Homo sapiens: one gene and its partner. The protein of the gene in region 1 binds, or shares a complex with, the protein of each later gene. Each region holds a gene or a part of one and is shown on either strand. Other genes may lie near its edges.

Region 1 (2,767 bases):
GAGTAATTGTCCGCAGGAGGGGGAGGTCTGGCACCTCCACAGAACTTAGCAAGTCCTGAGGTGGGACTGACTGTGCAGGCACTGTTGTGCCCATGTCGGAACTTCTTAAATCCTCACAACAACCCCGCCTCTCTTTTAAAGAAACTCCCCTTTGCTTATCACCTTCGGGGTCCAGCATTGTTTCATTTCACTGCTGAAATGAACACTTTCCCATGACCTCCAGTAGTGGAGGTTGAGGGTTTCTCGCCCAAATTCCCAAATTCCCGCCAGGCTCTCAGCCCACTTTGGAACTCACCCTCCCCCCCAGTACACACGCTTTCGCTGGGGTTGCCGCAGTTCTGTTCCAGCATGGCATATGGTCCATGCCTGGCCAGTCAGAGCACAGCACTGCACCACTCTGACAAATATGATTGGTTAAAAGGGGGCCCAGGACCTAAGCTGGTCCAATCACAGTAAATCTTAGTTAGAACTTTGCCTGGGATAGACATTTGCTCTTTTTGGCTGAACTTGAACTTGGAAGGATGAGGCCCTGAACTTGAACTTGGAAGGATGAAACCCTGAACTTGAACTTGGGAGGATGAAGCCCTAAGTCGCCTGCCTGAGAATGAACCAGCCAGCAGAAGGCAGAGCCCAGAGCTAAACAAGCCTCGATGACATCATTTGAATACCTTGATCAAGCTGCACCTGAAATCACGATATCTCCAAACTTGAATCAATAAATTTATTTTCTGCTTAAGCAGGTTGAGTTGGGTTTTCTATTTGCAATAGCAAAAGTCCTGACTGGCAAGGTTTAAAAGTTTGAAGACTCTCACAGGTAAGTGCAGCTCAGGATCCTGTGAGTGCAGCAGAAAGTCTTAAGAAATGGCAGGGGCTGGTTGAACCCAGATTTTCCATTGGCTGAGCAGATATCCCCAGAGGCGTAGAAAATTAAATTTGTTTTATGTTGTTCCAAAAGAGGAGAACTGAGGCCAGAGGAGCACACTTCTGAGACACTCATTTTTGCTGGGTAGAGGAACTCTCTGGCAAGCAGGACCATCGATATTAGAGCAGCTGGCCTCAGGAGGGAGTAAGAGCCCCATCCCTGAAGGTACACAAGTTGTGGCAGCAACCATCTGGCCTGCAGTTTCCAGAGGGGAGTCAGGCGTGGGGTGGGACTGGAGTGAACGGGTAGATGCTTCCACATGCGGCAGTTGGCACTGACGGCAGGAACACGGGGGTGGCTTAATGGGTCCTGGGGCTCCCCTCTGGCCCTCAGGAAGGCAGGAGCATGAGGGGCTTGGGATGCAGCACCTGCAAATTTGCACGTTCCTGGCCTCAGGAGGCCTCCAGTACAGAAAAGACCATCAACGAAGCTCTGCAGCCATCTGCTAAGAAACGCCACAGGGAGGGGACAGCATGGCCAGCCGGGGTGCCATCAGGCTTTGGGTGGGGATCCTGGAGGATCAGACCCATCTAGGTGGGAGCGCTGGGGTGCAACCTGGAAGGAAGATAAGCAGGGAAAGAGAATTTGGGGACATGCAGAATCCACAGCTCTCGCCTTCCTGGCTCACAGCTCATTCCCACCTCCAGGTCTTTGCTCAAGGTTTGACTCCCACCAGGACTGCCAATGCTGCTCTCCCCACCTCACCAGTCCTCTCTGTCCTTCTGGTCCCACACCTCCAGGAGGCCTTGTGGGCTGCCTCCAACTCACTGACCCCACCATCTGCCCCCTGGGGATCATAGCTCAGGCTCTCCCACCTCCACCCACATATGTGGGTGCAGGATCTCCCTGGCTCGACTGGGCTCTCCTAGGGCCAGGGACCAAGGCATCTTTTCCATCACCTCCTGCAGGAATGGGCAGAGTGGGGCTCCGTGACACCCACTCCCTGGCCCGGGGGTGGGGGGTTACCAGGCATTCATTCATACCTTGGGCCTTGCCTCTGGAAGATGAGCTCCAGAGAGTGAGACTGGCCCAGGCAGATGACAAGTAGGCTGCGGAAACTGAGGCAACCTCCATACCCACCTTCTTTCTGTCCTGGCCTAAATGCCACTCACAGTGAACCAAAGGCCACTGCTCAGCCAGGGCCTGCTGTGTATGGGAGTTGGGCACTAGAGTGGGGGACTCTTACCCCTAGAGGAGGCTGCAGGCGCGCTTCTGCTGCCGCGTGGGCTGAGGGCACAGCACGGCCCGGATGGCCTCGTCGAACACGGTTTTCAGGCCTCTCTGGGTGAGAGCTGAGCACTCCAGGTATTTCACCGAGTCTGGTTGGGGAGATGGACAGGAGAGCCAAGGCCTAAGTGGCGGGGGGGGTTCTGGGCCAACATGTCTCCTATGCCATACAACCCCTTCCACGCCATACACCCCTCCCACGCCATACACCCCTCCCACGCCATACACCCTCCCGTGCCATACACCCCTCCCACGCCATACACCCCTCCCACGCCATACACCCTCCCTCCCACGCCATACACCCCTCCCACGCCATACACTCCTCCCACGCCATACACCCCTCCCACGCCATACACCCTCCCATGCCATACACCCCTCCCACGCCTCCCACGCCATACACCCCTCCCACGCCATACACCCCTCCCACGCCATATACCCCTCCCACGCCATACACCCTCCCACGCCATACACCCCTCCCACGCCATACACCCTCCCTCCCACGCCATACACCCCTCCCACGCCATACACTCCTCCCACGCCATACACCCCTCCCACGCCATACACCCTCCCATGCCATACACCCCTCCCACGCCTCCCACGCCATACACCCCTCCCACG
Region 2 (7,267 bases), on another chromosome or scaffold:
TTTTCCACGCATCTTTCTGGGTTCCTGGAAAGAGGAAGAAGGTACCCAGAAGTACGCCAGAAATCAGGTTCCGCTTTCTAAGCCAGAAGGTGGGGTAACTAGCTTCAATTCACTGAGCCTCTTCCATCGCGAAGAGGACAGGCAGAAGCAGAGGTTTCCTGTTTCCTGGCAGCTGCAATTTCCACTGTGTTCTATTGCCTGTTTGGGAGCTCGCTGAAGGTCTCAGAGGGCACACACTTTAACTGCCGTCAGCATCAACCTACCAACGTGCCTTCCTCCCTGCTGAGTTGGCTAAGCAGATGGATTTCAGCTGGGAAGTGACACCACCTGGGTCTATCTGGCATTGCATGAGCCCAGCAAAATCCTCCTAATAATTCCCTAGCCCATCAAGATGTCTACAGAGGCCCGGTGCAGTGGCTCGTGCCGGTAATCCCAGCATTTTGGGAGGCCAAGGCAGGCGGATCACTTGAGGTCAGGGGTTCGAGACCAGCCTGGCCAACATGGTGAAACCCCGTCTCTACTAAAAATATTTAAAAATTAGCCGGGCGTGGTGGTGCGTGCCTATAGTTCCAGCTACTCAGGAGGGTGAGGCAGGAGAATCACTTGAACCCAGGAGGTGGAGGTTGAAATGAGCCAAAACCATGCCACTGCACTCCAGCCTGGTTGACAGAGCGAGACTCCAACTCAAAAAAAAAAAAAAGGTGTCTACAGATTTGGGCCTGGTAGGAGAGAGAGAGAAAGAACTGACAAATTATTCAGAGGGTTTGCTTTGTTTTAAAGACAGGGTGGACCCGCCTAGGCAATATGGAGAAACCCCACCTCTACTAAAAGTACAAAAAATTAGCCAGGCATAGTGGTACGTGCCTGTAGTCCCAGCTACCCGGGAAGCTGAGGTTGGAGAATCACCTGAGCCCAGGAAGTCAAGACTGCAGTGAGACATGATTGCACCACTCCACTCCAGCCTGGACGACAGAATGAAATCCTGACTCAAAAAAAAAAAAAAAAGAAAGAAAGAAAGAAAGAAAAGAAAGTCCAACAACCAAAAAAACAGGGTGGGGCCAGGGGCTGAGGTTTGAGCCTGCAGTTCCAGCTACTCCGCCAGAGGCTGGGGCAGGAGGATCACTTGAGCCCAGGAGTTTGAGGCCAGCCTGGACAATATAGTGAGACCCCTTCTCTAAAAAAAAAAAGATTACTTATTTTATTTATTAATTTTGTTATAGAGACGGGGGTCTCACTATGTTGCTCAGGCTGGTCTCGAACTCCTGGGTTCAAGCAATCCTCCCACCTCAGCCTCCCAAAGTACAAAGACTGCAACTGTGAGCCACTGCACAGGGCCTAATTAATTAATTTTTAAAACGGGGAAGGGGCATCCTTGCTAAGTGTTTTTTTTTTTTGAGACAGAGTCTCGCTCTGTTGCCCTGGCTGGAGTGCAGTGGCGCGATCTCGGCTCACTGGAAGCTCCGCCTCCCGGTTCACGCCATTCTCCTGCCTCAGCCTCCCGAGTAGCTGGGACTACAGGCGTCCGCCACCGCGCCCGGCTAATTTTTTGTGTTTTTAGTAGAGCCAGGGTTTCACCGTGTTAGCCAGGATGGTCTCGATCTCCTTACCTCGTGATCCGCCCGCCTCGGCCTCCCAAAGTGCTGGGATTACAGGCGTGAGCCACCTCGCCTCGCCAACTAAGTGTCGTTTTTAAACATGTCTCTGAAAGCACCGGCCTGCTTCCCAGCCCCCTCGTTCCCTGCTGCAGGCCTCTTTTCGGCCTCTCCACTTGTTTACCCAGAGCTGCAGCCCTGAAGGGGGTTCCGCTTTGACACACAGCTCTTTTCCCATTACACAGGTTCGCAATAATCTCAGTATGAGAATCCCAAAATAGCATTCAGCGCTGTGTGCCAGTGGGCCGTGCTGCGGCAGCCCCCGCCTCCCTCTAGCCCTTCTTCAGCGGTTCTCTTCGTGGCCATTTGGAAGCATCCCCCAGGAGGCAGCCAAGGTGCTGGCAGCTTCCTGCAGGGCTCTGCTGGGCTGGGCATGGGTGCTTTCTTCACACCCACACTTCAGTGACACCCCTTGGGGCGCCTTGGCTGCACTGGACCCAAAGCCCCTCCCCTCCCAGGCAGGGGATCCACCAGCTGAAGCAGCAACCTTGCCATAGCTTTTCACAAGCTCCAGGCTTGAGAGAGTTTATAATCCCCATTTCTGTAATACTCCTGGGAGGTTTCTTAGTAACCTGCTTGTTCCCATGCTGCCAGTGCCCCATGCGTCCAGAGTCCACAGCTCATACACCTGCACCCAGGACAATGGAATCTCAGCAAGCTGAAAGAAGTCAAAACTTCAGGCATCTTTGGGATGCTGCAGTGGCTGCTGTGACAGAGGTTTGGGCCCACTCCCTTTCCTGTTTCCAAGTCAGCAGGAAGAAGGCTTTGCTATGGAGCCTCTTTAAGCCAGCTCCATGGAATGGGTCTCACCCTTATTGTCATGCCCTAAGATTCATAAGGCACAGGATCTGAAAGACAGCTTCGAGCCCCTGTGCCTTTCAGATGACAACGCTGGGGCTAGAGAGGCGAGACAGCTTGGCTGTTATCCCTGAGACTCTGCTTGCCTTTTCAGAAATGTGCTCTAACTTTGTTCTGTTGGAACTTTATAATGACGGAAGAGCAACACAAAAACATACGAAAGTGGGGAAAATAGAGGGAAATAGAGGGGGAAAAACCTCCATCCATAACATTATCAGCCTTAAACAATTCCCTTTTGTAATCTGAGGGAATTCCTTTTTTTTTTATTCAGACAGAATCTTGCTCTGTTGCCCAGGTTGGAGTGCAGTGGTGTTATCTCGGTTCACTGCAACATCTGCCTCCCAGGTCCAAGCTATTCTCCTGCCTCAGCGTCCCAAGTAGCTGGGATTACAGGCACCCACCACCATGTGCTGCTAATTTTTTGTATTTTTAGTAGAGACAAGGTTTCGCCATGTTGGCCAGGCTGGTTTCAAACTCTTGACCTCAGGTGATCCGCCTACCTTGGCCTCCTAAAGTGCTGGGATTACAGGTGTGAGCCACTGTGCCCAGCCAATCTGAGGGAATTTCTGTCCCACACATTAAGAAGTAATTTCTCTAGCCCCCATCCCGCTTACTTAAAACTACCTCTTACAGCAGTTACCCACTTCTGCCTTGCATTACAGTTACTGGTGTTCTTGACTTGTTTCCCCTTTTTAATTTATAAGTTCCTTGAAACGGAGACTATATTTTGCTCACTTTTATTTAATCCAACACTCATTTATTGAGTAACTACTATGCTAGATACTGAAATACAAGCATGAGTAAGTAAAGATTTCTTACGAAATTCGTAGAGTAGTGGAGAAGACAAATATATACAGGAAGCAAATATCTGTCACGGGCCAGACATATTACAAAAGGAGGCTCAAAAGAGGGAGCAGACGCTGCCTTAGTGGTTGGGCATGGCTGGGGCAAAGGCACGGAGGATGCATGAGTGGGTGGCAGCAGCTGGACCACATAGGAACAGGCAAGGGAATTTGGCCTTTATCTTGCAGTCATGGAAGCCACTGGAAGTTCTCACAGAGATTGCTTTTTTTAAATTTTTTTTTATTTTACAAGATCACTCTGGAATATGAATGGAGGGGACAAGAGCAGTGGCTGGAAAATCAGTTTGGAAGTGACTGCAGTAGTCCTGGTGAAAAATGAGGGTCTCAACCAAGGCAGTGCTAGTGGGGATGGAGAGAAATAGGTGGATTTAAGAAATATTTAAGAGGTCAACCTGATGAGGTTTAGGGAAAGAGACATTCCCTGGATGGATCTCAGGTACAGATTCTGTGAGAAATGGAGGCCAGCCATATGGGAGAGGGTGGCCTTGCCCAGGAATGGATCCTCAAGGTTCACATACGGACTTCATATCTATAGCCCCTGAATTGTACATAAACGAATGTGTGTGCTTGAAAGTGTATTTCTGGAAACACATTTTGCCATTTAACAACCACTGCTGCAGTTGTAAAAGGGAAAAGGGTCAAGAACAGAACTTCAAAGGGAATACCAACACCTAGGGAATTGCGCAAGAGGGCCTGCTTGAGGTTGAGATTAGTGCCTCATTTGTATAATTTCCTCATTGTTGAATTACAGATAAAACTCGGTAGATTTTTCTCTCAGGTGTAACTATTAATATTACCAATCACAGATTAATTGAATCCTGGGTCTTACTTTTAGAAGTTTCCAAGATCTTTCTAATCACTCAAAACCGTGGCCTTCCAGATCCTGGGACTCACGGGCATTTTTTGGAGGAAATTCTTTCTGGGAGCCTTCACTCTTTTGCCAGTTGTATCTCTTCTTTATAGACTATTAGAGGTCACTAAGGAATGACCTTAGAGTTTGCGTTTTGAGATTTAAGATCGGCTGAAGGATTTGTTGTTAGGCCTCCCTGCATATTCTATAGTCTGGAGACGGGGTAAGGGGGAGTGAGAAAGAGAAGGATGTTAAGAGCGGGGACAGGCAGTTAGAGGCAAGACGTCGGTCAAGATAAACACCTGCTGTACCAAAATATCTCATGTGTCCCATAAATATATACACCTACTGCATACCCACAAACATTAAAATAAAAAATTAAAATTAAAAAAAGAATTTATAAAGTCACAATAAATATGTCACACTAAATATGGGGGGAAGAGAGAGCTAAATGCCTGGATATCTTCTCCCAATCCCAGGCTCTCTTTCTCCCCAGATTGCCATTGTGTCTGTGGTTTTTCTTTTAGAAAAGACTTCACTTCTACTTTCACTTCTTCAGGTAACTAACTGCATCTACATCTTTAAGGTCCTTTGAGCATCTTGTGGTTGCCCTTAGCAACAGCTGCATACATGGGTTTTACAGGCTCTGTTTCTGACCAAACCATAGGATCAAAGCCTTTCAGGGTGGCACAGGATCAGAGCCCAGCCCTCTCTCTGATGTCTGGACATTGTCTACAACCTCCCTGCTGCTCCATCCACGCCCGGCCTCACCCTCACCCCACCCACACCATGCACAGATCATTTTCACTGTCAGAAAGTTCTTTATTAGGCTGGGCTCAGTGACTCATGCCTGTAATCCCAGTACTTTGGGAGGCCGAGGCGGGTGGATCACAAGGTCAGGAGTTCGAGACCAGCGTGGCCAACATGGTGAAACCCTGTCTCTACTGAAAAATACACAAATTAGCTGGACGTAGTGGCGGGCACCTGTAATCCCAGCTACTTGGGAGGCTGAGGCAAGAGAATTGTTTGAACGTGGAAGGCAGAGGTTGCAGTGAGCCGAGATCGCGCCACTGCACTCCAGCCTGGGTGACAGGGCGAAACTCCGTCTCAAAAAAAAAAAAAATTCTTCATTAGCCTGAGCCAAATTCCTCTTCCCTAGAACTGATGCACACTGGTGGAACAGTTTCTACAAAGGGTCAGTTTCCCATGCCCCAAAACATTTGAAATTATCACTTAGAATTTTTTTCCTTTGTTATTTGTTATGAGGTATTTGTGCAGGATGAGAGGGAGGAGGAATTGAGATTAACTTTCATTTTGAATTTATTAATCTTTGTACTAATTATTCCATGTTGACTATAAACAAACCTAAAAATGCAGACAGGGTGATAGAAGAAAATGGATTTTCCTATAATCCCACCATCCAGAGAGAATTATTGATAACATTTTGATCTATGGCCTTCCAGACTTTATTCTGTGATACAGAAATGGGACTATGCTATATGAACTGTTTTGAAATCTGTTTTTAAATTTAACATCTGGCTGGGCGTGGTGGCACATGCCTGTAATCCCAGCACTTTGGGGGGCTGAGGTGGGCAGATCACCTGAGGTCGGGAGTTCAAGACCAGCCTGACCAACATGGAGAAACCCCATCTCTACTAAAAATACAAAATTAGCTGGGTGTGGTGGCGCATGCCTGTAGTCCCAGCTACTCGGGAGGGTAAGCCAGGAGAATCGCTTGAGCCTGGGAGGCGGAGGCTGCGGTGAGCTGAGATCGAGCCCTTGCACTCCAGCCTGGGCAACAAGAGTGAAACTCTGTCTCGGAAAAAGAAAAAAAATTAACATCTACTGCAAACTTTTTCTGTATAAGTGCATACGCTACTTACTTATCTGTAGTAATTTATTCTTATACATATAATGTTAATTTGTATTATCATTTTTGCAGCTGAAGTATATTTCCTCAAATGGATTAAACCAGGTTTTGGAAATGCATTTTGCTGGGATGAAGCCAGGTTTTGATGCAGTTTCATGATCATCCCCATTCTGTGACAGCTCAGTACCTCATAGGAGACCTACATGGGTGACCCCATCAGGGACACTGGTGGGGTGTCACACCAGCTGAGTATCAGGCCCATGGTGGTTACCTAGGCTCATTGTGCCTATGACACAGCTGATTTATAATCTGGTGGCAGACCTGCCTTGCCTCCCCAGTGAGAGCTTCTGCCTCACCTGCTGATTTATTGCATAACTGTCCCCAGAAGGGCCAGTCACATTTCCCAACAGAGGTTGGGAAGGTACTGCTCAAACACCAAGCCCGCAACACTGAGACCCCTTGGGTTTCTCTCTGAAATCCTCCAGTTGGTGCAACATTGAACCACTTACTTCTCTGTCTGGTAGTAGAGCATCCCTCGTTGGAAGTAAGCCACTGCCAAGTGCTTGTCTCGGTTAATGCTTCTGGTAAAGGCCTGAGGAGAGAAGGGTCCAGACATGGCCATGATGCAAGGCAGTGAGGAGGTGTGAGATGAGCCACGGCTCACAGAGCCCTAGCTCCCTGTGGTGCCCAGCTCTGCTGTCTGCCCTCGTCGGCACCTCGAGGCCCACCCTGTGCTCTCACGGTGCACCCCACTTCGCTCTCACATTTAGAAGCTGAAGTCTGGGACAATGGTGTGCATTCCTTGTATTGTCATTCCAGTTCTGCTGTGGATCTACAAAACATTCCTGGAGCCATACATATACCATCTGATTTCTGCTTTTGTTAGTCATATATGGCCTAGAAAAGCTACACAAGAATCCAATAATTCCCAGGTGCGGTTGCTCACACCTGTAATCCCAGCACTTTGGGAGGCCAAGGCAGGTGGATCACTTGAGCCCAGGAGTTCAAGACCAACCTGGGCAAAATAGTGAGACTCCATCTCTACGAAAAATTTAAAAATTAGTCAGATGTGGTGGCACATGCCTGTGGTCCCAGCTACTTGGGGGACTGAGGTAGGTCAATCGCTCAAGCCCAGGAGGTGGAGACTGCCGTGAGCTGTGACGGCACCACTGCA

The links. Proteins that work in one complex are often made in the same cells at the same time.
Region 2: RAC2 (region 1) and NCF2 share a complex: the UniProt entries of both Homo sapiens proteins name them as parts of the phagocyte NADPH oxidase complex.

What each region holds. Positions count from the first base shown.
Region 1 is NC_000022.11:37,224,563-37,227,329, forward strand, and holds the end of RAC2 (ras-related C3 botulinum toxin substrate 2), read right to left. Parts: intron 2,242-2,767; coding exon 2,111-2,241; 3' UTR 2,109-2,110; intron 1,478-2,108; 3' UTR 708-1,477; downstream 1-707. UniProt on the Homo sapiens protein: Plasma membrane-associated small GTPase which cycles between an active GTP-bound and inactive GDP-bound state.
Region 2 is NC_000001.11:183,580,293-183,587,559, forward strand, and holds part of NCF2 (neutrophil cytosol factor 2), read right to left. Parts: intron 6,686-7,267; coding exon 6,603-6,685; intron 1-6,602. UniProt on the Homo sapiens protein: Subunit of the phagocyte NADPH oxidase complex that mediates the transfer of electrons from cytosolic NADPH to O2 to produce the superoxide anion (O2(-)).